Homo sapiens: one gene and its partners. The protein of the gene in region 1 purifies or fractionates together with the protein of each later gene. This does not show direct contact. Each region holds a gene or a part of one and is shown on either strand. Other genes may lie near its edges. The genes, in order: IDH2, AZU1 and RAB11A.

Evidence for each region.
Region 2: the proteins of IDH2 (region 1) and AZU1 purify together in Homo sapiens (co-immunoprecipitation; one large-scale study listed by IntAct). This does not show direct contact.
Region 3: the proteins of IDH2 (region 1) and RAB11A fractionate together in Homo sapiens (co-fractionation; one large-scale study listed by BioGRID). This does not show direct contact.

What each region holds. Positions count from the first base shown.
Region 1 is NC_000015.10:90,095,795-90,099,522, reverse strand, and holds part of IDH2 (isocitrate dehydrogenase [NADP], mitochondrial isoform 1 precursor), read left to right. Parts: intron 1-3,728. UniProt on the Homo sapiens protein: Plays a role in intermediary metabolism and energy production. It may tightly associate or interact with the pyruvate dehydrogenase complex.
Region 2 is NC_000019.10:826,200-830,027, forward strand, and holds the start of AZU1 (azurocidin preproprotein), read left to right. Parts: upstream 1-1,637; 5' UTR 1,638-1,647; coding exon 1,648-1,705; intron 1,706-2,030; coding exon 2,031-2,187; intron 2,188-3,362; coding exon 3,363-3,507; intron 3,508-3,828. UniProt on the Homo sapiens protein: This is a neutrophil granule-derived antibacterial and monocyte- and fibroblast-specific chemotactic glycoprotein. Binds heparin.
Region 3 is NC_000015.10:65,889,490-65,892,489, forward strand, and holds the end of RAB11A (ras-related protein Rab-11A), read left to right. Parts: 3' UTR 1-2,500; downstream 2,501-3,000. UniProt on the Homo sapiens protein: The small GTPases Rab are key regulators of intracellular membrane trafficking, from the formation of transport vesicles to their fusion with membranes.

The DNA of each region.
Region 1 (3,728 bases):
GCACTCTAGCCTGGGTGACAAAGCAAGACCCTGCCTCCCCCTTCTCCCCCCAAAAAGAGAAGAGCTAAGGAGAAACAGGCAAGAAAGGTGTGTGCACAAAAGTTTGTATAGGGCAGCCAGAAAAGTCCTCACTGAAGGAATCGCTGAGGAGGGGAGGAAGCAGGCCATTTTCGGTATTGGGGGAAGAGGGACTCGCAGGTGCCAAGGGCATGATGGAAGAGCAGAGAGGATGGTGCGAAGGCTGGCTCAGCAGGCACCAGGTGGAGTGACAGGATGAGGTTCGGCAGTGGGGTCTGTAGAGGGCTCACAGGCCATTTTTGAGAGCTTTCGCTTTTACTTTGCAGGGTTTTGAGAGGAGTATCGTTACCTGATTTCCATCTTATCGGGAGCATTCTAGCTTCAGGGACCTGGCAAGAGAGGATGATGGCTTGGACCTGGGTGGTGGCGCTGGGGATGGTGAAGAAGTGGTTGGATTCTGGATATATTTTGAAGGAGGAGCCAGTAGTGGGGAAAGGTTCCAATTCAGGCGATTTTACATAAAAATCTAGATACGCAGCAGGCACTCACTTATGGCAAGGGTGGGCTTGTCTGAGGGTGGCTTCTGGTTTTGGTGGTTTGGATGTGAGAGAAGGGAAGGAATGAAGGATGACACCAAGGAGTCTACTAGAGTTTGTTCCAAAATGGCTGTTCTGGCCGCGTGCGGTGGCTCCCAGGACTTTGGGAGGCCGAAGCAGGCGGATCAGTTGGGGCCAGGAGTTCGAGACCTGCCTGGCCACCATGGTGAAACCCGGTCTCTACTAAAAATACAAAAATTAGCTGGGTGTGGTGGCAGGCGCCTGTAGTCCCAGCTACTCAGGGGCTGAGGCAGGAGAATTGCCTGAACCCAGGAGGTGGAGCTTGCAGTGAGCCGAGATCACGCCACTGCCCTCCAGTGTAGGCGACAGAGTGAGACTCTGTCTCAATACATACATACATACATACATACATACATGCATGCATACATACATACATACATACATAAAATATACAAAGTTGCTGTCCTGCCTTCTTGAGCCCCCAGGAATTGGAACCTTTCCCCACTCTCTGATCTTTTGCTGGGACATGCTGACTGAGCAGCCTTTCTGCTGAGAGCATGGGTAGGAATGTGGAGGGAGCAGTTATGCCTGGGGCTGGCTGCCTGCGGCTGGACCTCTAGCCTCCTGCTGGGAGCAGCAAGAAGCCAGGGATGTGTTTTGAAATCCTTACTTGGTATTGGGTGCTAGGAGCCCCAGACAGGGAGGAGAGTCAGCCTAACGTGCCTCTGGTGACTGGTGTAATTCCATCCTGCACTCTCGCCAAGAGGACAGTGTTTGTGCAATGCATCAGCTGAAGATTCGTGGTGGCTGTCACTTCGGAGGTTTTCAGGGAGGCCTAGCTGCTGCTCTGTGTATTTCAGGTAGCTTGTCACCACTTATCTCTCAGAGAAGGGCAGACCATGGCTGTATCTCCACCATACAGGCTGAACAGCAGACAGGGGTCTCAAACTCCAGTGCCCTGGGCCACACTGGAGGGCACTTGGCTGTCATGGAGTGAAGGGAGAGGCCGCCTTCAGCCCAGCCCATCCTTGCCATGAGTGAGTGCCTGCTGCATTTCTAGATTTTTATATAAAATCTCCTGATTTTTTTTGACTGGTTTAAATTTTTATTATTTTGGTAAAAAACGTATAAAACTTACCATCTTAGTCATTGTTCAGTGTACAGTATTGTTAAGTACATTCGCACTGTTGTGCAGACATTACCACCATCCATCACCAGAACTTTGTCACCTTGCAAAACCGAAACTCTCTACCCATGAAACAATACCTCCCCACTTCCCGTCCCCAGTCCCTGGCAGCCACCTTTTTACTTTCTGTTTCTATGAATTTGACTATTCTAGGTACCTCATGTAAGTAGAAGCATATAGTATTTGTCTTTTGTGACTGGTTTATTTCACTTAGTTAGCATAATGCCCCCCAGGTTCATCCACTTTGTAGCAGGTGTCAGAATTTCCCTTCTTTTCAAGGCTGAATCATATTCCATTGTATGTAGATAACAGTAGTCCCCCTTATCCTTGGAGGATGCATTTCAAGATCCCCAGTGGATACCTGAAACTGCAAAGCCTGTAGATACTATGTTTTTTTCCTATACATACAGATCTATGATAAAGTTTAATTTATGAATTAGGAACAGTAAGAGATTAGCAATAATAACTAGTAATAAAATAGAACAATTATAACAATATACTGTAATGAAAGTTACATGAATGTGATCTCTTAAAATATCTTACTGTACTGTACTCACCTATTTTCAGACTATGGTTGACTGTGGGTAACTGACACCACAGGTAACTGACGTCATGGAAATAAAACCTTTGATAAGGGGGGACTGTATCACATTGTCTTTATCCATTCATCTGTGATGGACACGTGGGTTGCTTCTATCTTTTGCTGTTGTGAACATTGCTGCTATGAATGTGGGCATACATATATCTCTTTCAGACCCCGCTTTCGATATTTTTGGATGTATATACAGAAGCAGAATTGCTGGATCATATAGTAATTCTTGTCCTTTTCTTTTCTTTTTTTTTTTCGAGACGGAGTCTTGCTCTCTTTCGCCCATGCTGGAGTGCAGTGGCGCGATCTCAGCTCACTGCAAGCTCCGCCTCCCGGGTTCATGCCATTCTCCTGCCTCAGCCTCCCCAGTAGCTGGGACTACAGGCGCCTGCCACCACGCCTGGCTAATTTTTTGTATTTTTAGTAGAGTCAGGGTTTCACTGTGTTAGCCAGGATGGTCTCGATCTTCTGACCTCGTGATCCACCCGCCTCAGCCTTCCACAGTGCTGGGATTACAGGTGCGAGCCACCGTGCCCGGCAGTAATTCTTTTCCTTTTAGCTAAGGAACACCCATACTGTTTTCCACAGCAGCTGCACCATTTCACATTCCCACCAACAGGGCACAAGAGTTCCAATTTCTCCACATCCTTGCTAGCACTTTATTTTCTGTTTTGTTTTTCTTTTCCTGATAGTAGCTCTCTTAGTGGTTGTGAGGGGATAGTGGGGTGATATCTCATTATGGTTTTGATTTGCATTTCCCTGATGATTAGTGATGTTGAGCATCTTTTCATGTGCTTGTTGGCCATTTGTATATCATCTTTGGACTTGAAATGTCTATTTAAGTCTTTTGTCCATTATATTTATTTATTTATTTTGAGATGGAGTCTTCCTGTTACCCAGGCTGGAGTGCAGTGGCATGATCTCTGCTCACTGCAACCTCCACCTCCTGGGTTCAAGCAATTCTCCTGCCTCAGCCTCCCAAATAGCTGGGACTACAGGTGTGTGTCACCACACCAGGCTAATTTTTTTTCTATTTTTAGTAGACACAGAGTTTCACCATTGTGGCCAGGCTGGTCTCGAACTCCTGACCTCAAGTGATCTGCCCTCTTCAGCCTTCCAAAGTGCTGGGATTACAGGCATGAGCCACGGTGCCCAGCCAGTCTTCTGTCCATTTTAACGTTGAGTTATTTGTTTTATTGTTGAGATTTACTGATTTTTAAAACTTGGTCACCAATTAAGATTTTTTTAAAAAACCAGTACCTGGAACAAGCAGAACAAGTCTCTGCTGGCCTTGGCTCATGTTGCTGTTCTCAGTTCCCCTGGGATGTTTGCTTCCAGGGAGGCCTGGGCACTCCTGACTTTGGTGACAGCCCTGCTT
Region 2 (3,828 bases), on another chromosome or scaffold:
AGGCTGAGGCAGGAGGATCAGTTGAACCCAGGAGATTGAGGCTGCAGTGAGCTGAGATGGTGCCGCTGCCCTCCAGCCTGGGCAACAGCGAGACCTCAACTCTGAAAAAAACAAAAGAAGGAGATGAAATTTACATAACTTAAAATTAGCCATTTTGAACGGTACAGTGAAGTGGTTTTCGGTGCATTCACCGACTTGTGCAACCATCACTGCTGTCCAGTCCCAGAACATTCCATCACCCCAAAGAAGGAAGCCCCATCTCCATCCATCAGCCATCACCCCCTGCCCTCCCCCGGCCCCTGGCAACCACAGATCCACTTCCTGCCTCTGCAGATTTGCTTGTTCTGGACATTTCGTCTATTTATTTTTATATAGTTTTTAATTTGTTTTTATTTATTTTTTTTGAGACGGAGTCTCTCTGTGTCACCCAGGCTGGAGTGCAGTGGCGCAATCTCGGCTCACTGCAACCTCCACCTCCCAGGTTCAAGCGATTATCCTGTCTCAGCTTCCCAAGTAGCTGGGACTATAGGCGCCCGCCACCACGCCCAGCTAATTTCTTTTTTTTTTTTGAAATGGAGTTTTGCTCTTGTCGCCCAGGCTGGAGTGCAATGGTGCGATCTCGGCTCGCTGCAACCTCCGCCTCCCAGGTTCAAGTGATTCTCCTGCCTCAGCCTCCTGAGTAGCTGGGATTACAGGCATGTGCCACCACGCCCAGTTAATTTTGTATTTTTAGTAGAGATGGGGTTTCTCCATGTTGGTCAGGCTGGTCTTGAACGCCCAACCTCAGGTGATCTGCCTGCCTCGGCCTCCCAGAGTGCTAGGATTACAGGTGTGAGCCACCGCACCCAGCTTGTCAATTATATCTCAATAAAGCTGTTGAAAAAGTTTAAAAAAATCACCCAATCGGGCACAGTGTTTCACACCTGTAATCCCAGCATTTTGGGAGGCCGAGGTGGGTGGATCACCTGAGGTCGGGAGTTTGAGACCAGCCTGGCCAATATAGTGAAACCCCATCTCTACTAAAAATACAAAAAATTAGCCAGGCGTGGTGGTGGACAACTGTAATCCTAGCTACTCAGGAGGCTGAGACAGGAGAATCACTTGAGCCTGGGAGGCGGAGGTTGCAGTGAGTCGAGATCACACCATTGCACTCCAGCCTGGGCAACAAGAGCGAAACTCCGTCTCAAAATAATAATAATAATAATAATAATAATAATCACCCATACAGACGCGCAGGACTCAACGCAGGACTGCCAGCTCCACTGCCCTGAGCCCCCCGGTGCCAGGCCCAGCGGGCAGTGCTGGAGCCCCAGTGGCTTGGGATGGGGAGACTGGGACTCTGAGCTGGCAATGTTCCTGGGTGCTGGCTGCATGCCCGCCATGTGCTGGGCTCCGGGATCCACTGGTTCCTGACACCCTCACCTGCCCCTGGGGGTGTGGCCATCTTCTAGAGAGGGAAACTGAGGATCAGTGCAGAATGTAGGGGGAGCCCAGGCTGGCCCAGGGAGCAGTTGGCGGTGGAGGCCTTGGGCAATTTCCCGTGTTCCCACTGAGTGGGGCTGTCCCTGGGCCTGGGCGGGGACGCCACCAACTGCCAAGGCCTGTGTATAAGGGCAGCCGCCGCCTTAGCCACAGACCTGCCCCGCCATGACCCGGCTGACAGTCCTGGCCCTGCTGGCTGGTCTGCTGGCGTCCTCGAGGGCCGGTGAGTGCCTCTCTGTGCCGGTGGTCCCCCATCTGTGCTAGGGCCCGGCTGCCAGGGCAGAACTCAGACTTAAAGCACAGAGAAGGCAAGCGGCTTGGCCTGGGTCACACAGCCAGCCCGGCCTGGACGATCCCGCGAAAGGCGTGAGGGCGGACGGTGTGCGGGACTCAGGGGCCCCCTGTCCTCTTAGGGAGTGGGACGATGGGGGAGGGTGGGTCCCCCCGCAGCCCCACTGGGTGGATAGAGCTGAGGCTGCAGCTTCACACGCCCTCCCGGCCACTGTGTGGATTCTTGGGGATCTCAGAGCTGTCTCCCCCCGACCCAGGCTCCAGCCCCCTTTTGGACATCGTTGGCGGCCGGAAGGCGAGGCCCCGCCAGTTCCCGTTCCTGGCCTCCATTCAGAATCAAGGCAGGCACTTCTGCGGGGGTGCCCTGATCCATGCCCGCTTCGTGATGACCGCGGCCAGCTGCTTCCAAAGCCAGTGAGGGGTCCTGGGGAGGGGGCCTAGGGGGCATTGGGGCTCAGAGAAGGGGCTTGGGGGGCTTAGGCATTCAGTGGGGGTGCTTGGTAGGTGAGGAGGGGAGGGGATTGCAAAAGGAGGGGCTCAGGGAAAGGAGGGGGCTTGGAGAGGGAAATGGGGACTGAGTTGAGGAGGGACCCAAGGATATTGGGGGGCTCAGATGGAGGAGGCCCAGAGAAGGGAAGGGGGTCAGATGGAGGAGGCCCAGAGAAAGGAAGAGGCTCAGATGGAGGAGGTGCAGTGAAGGAAAGGGGGTCAGATGGGGGAGGCCCAGAGAAGGGAAGGGGCTCAGATGGAGGAGGGGGCCCAGAGAAAGGAAGGGGCTCAGATGGAGGAGGTGCAGAGAAGGGAAGGGGGTCAGATGGGGGAGGCCCAGAGAAGGGAAGGGGCTCAGATGGAGGAGGTGCAGAGAAGGGAAGGGGCTCAGATGGAGGAGGTGCAGAGAAGAGAAGGGCCTCAGATGGAGGAGGTGCAGAGAAGGGAAGGGCCTCAGATGGAGGAGGTGCGGAGAAGGGAAGGGGGTCAGATGGAGGAGGTGCAGAGAAGGGAAGGGGGTCAGATGGGGGAGGCCCAGGGAAGGGAAGGGGCTCAGATGGAGGAGGGGCAGAGAAGGGAAGGGGGTCAGATGGGGGAGGCCCAGGGAAGGGAAGGGGCTCAGATGGGGGAGGCGCAGAGAAGGGAAGGGGGTCAGATGGAGGAGGTGCAGAGAAGGGAAGGGGGTCAGATGGGGGAGGCCCAGATAAGGGAATGGGGTCAGATGGGGGAGGTGCAGAGAAGGGAAGGGGGTCAGATGGGGGAGGCCCAGATAAGGGAAGGGGCTCAGATGGAGGAGGTGCAGAGAAGGGGAGGGGGTCAGATGGAGGAGGCTCAGAGAAGGGAAGGGACTCAGATGGAGGAGGGGGCGCAGAGAAGAGAAGGGGCTCAGATGGAGGAGGAGGCGCAGAGAAGGGAAGGGGCTCAAGATGGGAAGGGGGCCCTGGAAAGTCTCGGCTCTGCTTCTGTAAAAGCGGGGGAGTTTTCAGGGTGAAGGATTGCAGTCTGCAGGCTGGGATCCCCCCTAATTTGCAAGCCGGCTTGCTCTGTGCCCAGGCCCCAGCCTGGTGTCCTCCCTCTGCCCTTTCCTCCGCTACTCTCAGGAACCCCGGGGTTAGCACCGTGGTGCTGGGTGCCTATGACCTGAGGCGGCGGGAGAGGCAGTCCCGCCAGACGTTTTCCATCAGCAGCATGAGCGAGAATGGCTACGACCCCCAGCAGAACCTGAACGACCTGATGCTGCTTCAGGTGAGAGGATGGTGCCACCTGTGATCCCAGCACCTCGGGAGGCCGACGTTAGCCAGGGAAACAAGTCCAAACTTGGTCTCTACAAAAAAATACAAAAATTAGCCGGGAGTGGTGGCGCGCACCTGTGGCCCCTGTGCTTCAGGAGGCCGAGGCGGAAGGACGGCTTGAGGTCAGGAGTTCGAGACCAGCCTGGGCAACATGGCCAAACTCAGTCTCTACAAAAATATATATGTGTGTGTGTGTGTGTGTGTGTGTGTGTGTGTGTGTGTATCTTGCCGGGTGAGGTGGCTCATGCCTGTAATCCCAGCATTTTGGGAGGCC
Region 3 (3,000 bases), about 24 Mb from region 1:
TGCTTTGGGTGCAGCCGTGGAATCCTGATGTAAAAGCATAGGTTCTTGCATTACTGAGTAAACATTGAATTGGGAGCATCAGTGTGTGAATTCAGCTTTGATTTTAGAACTGCAGTTCAATTATGCTTTCCTTGGAAAAAGTATGTCCAAAAACATTAGGAAAGTAGTGTGTATTTTCATATATAACAGTGTCACCAGACCCAGGAAAAGAAACCATCTCTATTTTATTGAAAGTTGGTGGTAGATTTTTTACAAAGTAAGGAGAAAAGAGAAAAACTAAATAGTGAATTGAAAATGAATAAAGTAAACTTAGAATTTTTACCCAAGTGTAGACTTAAATGTTGCTTTGAGTATGGCTGGATCTTGGGAGAATTCCAGGAAATATTAGGTATTAGAAAATGACTTTGATTGCATTTCAGCAGGTGTCTTTATTCTGAGTAGTATCTTAGGAGACAAACTGTCTCAAGCAAGAAACAATAAATTTTTAAATATTATGACAGTTCAGGGCTTAAGGCAGTTTAGAAGTATTTTGCTACTTGACCTTGATTTTCAGTTATTTTAACTTTGAATTTTTTTTTTTTTTTTTGAGACGGAGTCTTGCTCTGTTGCCCAGGCTGGAGTACAATGGCACCATCTCAGCTCACTGCAAGCTCCACCTCCAGGGTTCATGCCATTCTCCTGCCTCAGCCTCCCGAGTAGCTGGGATTATAGGCGCCAGCCACCACGACTGGCTAATTTTTTGTATTTTTAGTAGAGACGGGGTTTCACCATGTTAGCCAGGGTGGTCTCGATCTCCTGACCTGGTGATACACCCACCTCGGCCTCCCAAAGTGCTGGGATTAAAGGCGTGAGCCACCGTGCCTGGCCTTGAATTTTTTTTTAACCTGTTATATAGTCTCCTGAATAGTTAGCCATGGTGCCTTGATTTAATCTTATGTCATTGTTCTCAAATGCCATGATTTCTCTTTAATAGTAGTTGTCATTATGTAAGGGTAAGTTATTGCCCATTTAATTGTAATTATAAGAAGAGGTGCCAGCTAGTGACCTTACATCAGTGATCTTTTAAGTTCTGAAGGGTTCTGCAGAAAAGTTACACTTCTTGAGTTTGGGTTGCCCATCAGAGCTGGTCACATTTCTTTGATCATTGAAAAAATGAATATCTTAATTTTTGTCTTTGCTGACTGGTATTTATAAAATACAAATGCTTTTAGTGGGTTGAGCTGTTGTGATAATCTCTTCCATCTACCTTAGAGAAGAAGCTGTACTATTTAGACAGTTTTGGCCAACACTAGAAGCAAAAGAATTCAAAGGCTGGGTGGATATTTAAGAACTTATTCTAACCTGTCAGGTTTCAATTTGTGGGGCTTGGTTTAACAGAGGAAAAAAATATAAATTGATTTTCTGATGTCTCACAAATATCACATACCTGGAAAAAAATTAAAACAAAAAATGAATTTTGTAAAAGGTTATGTATGACTTCCATTTGCTCTGTAAAAAAATGAACAAAGATTGTGAAAGGATCCTCTTCCACCACATCATTTAATGGGTTAGCGGAACAGATAGGGAGCTATGACACTAGCACCAAAGAGAGATTTTTCTTCTGGTTGGGTGGTGCTGGTGCCACGCCCCTTTCTGGGATTTGACAAGTCTTTCCCACTCACCTATACAATATGCCAAATCAACTGGAGTTGTCATTCTAATGTTTTAAAGAATGATTGGGTTCCCCCAAACTGTAGGAGGTCGATGGTAACAATAAAGTGATACAAAATGCTTATGTCATTATAATTTATGTAAGGGAGACCATTAGGCTGAGAATCAATATGATTGAGGTTATCTATTCTCCTGAAAAGTGAATTGGAGAATAAAGAAAGAATATTTGAAAGGATGTTGTGTACTAGGCAATATACTAGCATGTATTAGAAAATACGGTAAACTGTGGGTTAGAAGAGTGAAAGTAGCTGGTATGATAGAGCACTGGACTGAGTAACGAAGAGATTCTAGTCATGGCTCTTGTGGTCATTTCATTTTTGAGCCTCACATTCTTCCAATTAATGAGGGTACCAGATTAAATAAACTCTGGGGATTCATCCCAATTCGAACTCTGTAATTCTCTGAATGAACTCTCTCTTCAATTAAAGCCAAATTATTAACATTTTAACTCAAGTTTAAATTTAATAGAGAAGTCAAAATGAGGTATGCACTTTGTGGAATGTTTTTGGTCTTATCACAATAACCTGATTAAAATGGTGCCTTTATTTCCATGTTTACTCCTTTAAATAAGATGAAAGCTTTCAGAACATTTATTTGCAAAATGACTGTCAATATCAACAATATGCATCAAAGTACCATATATGCTAAGGGAGAGGAGCACTTGATGGGCTGCTATGTTAACTGTAAATTGAGAACTGCTTGTTTTATGGCTTTTGCTGTTAAAAAAAAACTGCTGGCTTTTAATATGTACTTTAAAATATACTCATGTCTGGGAGAGAACTTTTAAAAACATTTTGTGTTTAATTTTTAAAAAATTATTTCTTTAATAGGAATCTACAAGAAGGTAGATCAGTCCACAGGCTAGCTATCCAGTAGAACCAGTGATTAAATCCAAGTGTACAGGTTTATGTGTGCATGTACATGATACACATGGTATTTTGGGGTTGTTGATCTAGTGATCTAATTATTAATAGTCAAAACATTATTTAAATTCAATTCTTTGACATTTATTAATTATAGGATAGTTCCTGACACGGGTGTGAGCACAAAATGTTATGTATATTGGCTAACTATGTTACCAGTACCAGTGATGGTAGTGAGAATTAGCAGCCAACAGGATTCCTTTACTATGTTTGAGTCAGTGGAACTTAACCTTGCTCCAAACCACAAAATCTCAGACCTTTTTAACTCTCATCCCAATGAATAATGTACTGTTTTTAGCACCTGTCCCCCTGTTGACAACCTCTAATCTCTCAGCATACCATTTTCTCAGGTATTTCTAGGGAAGTG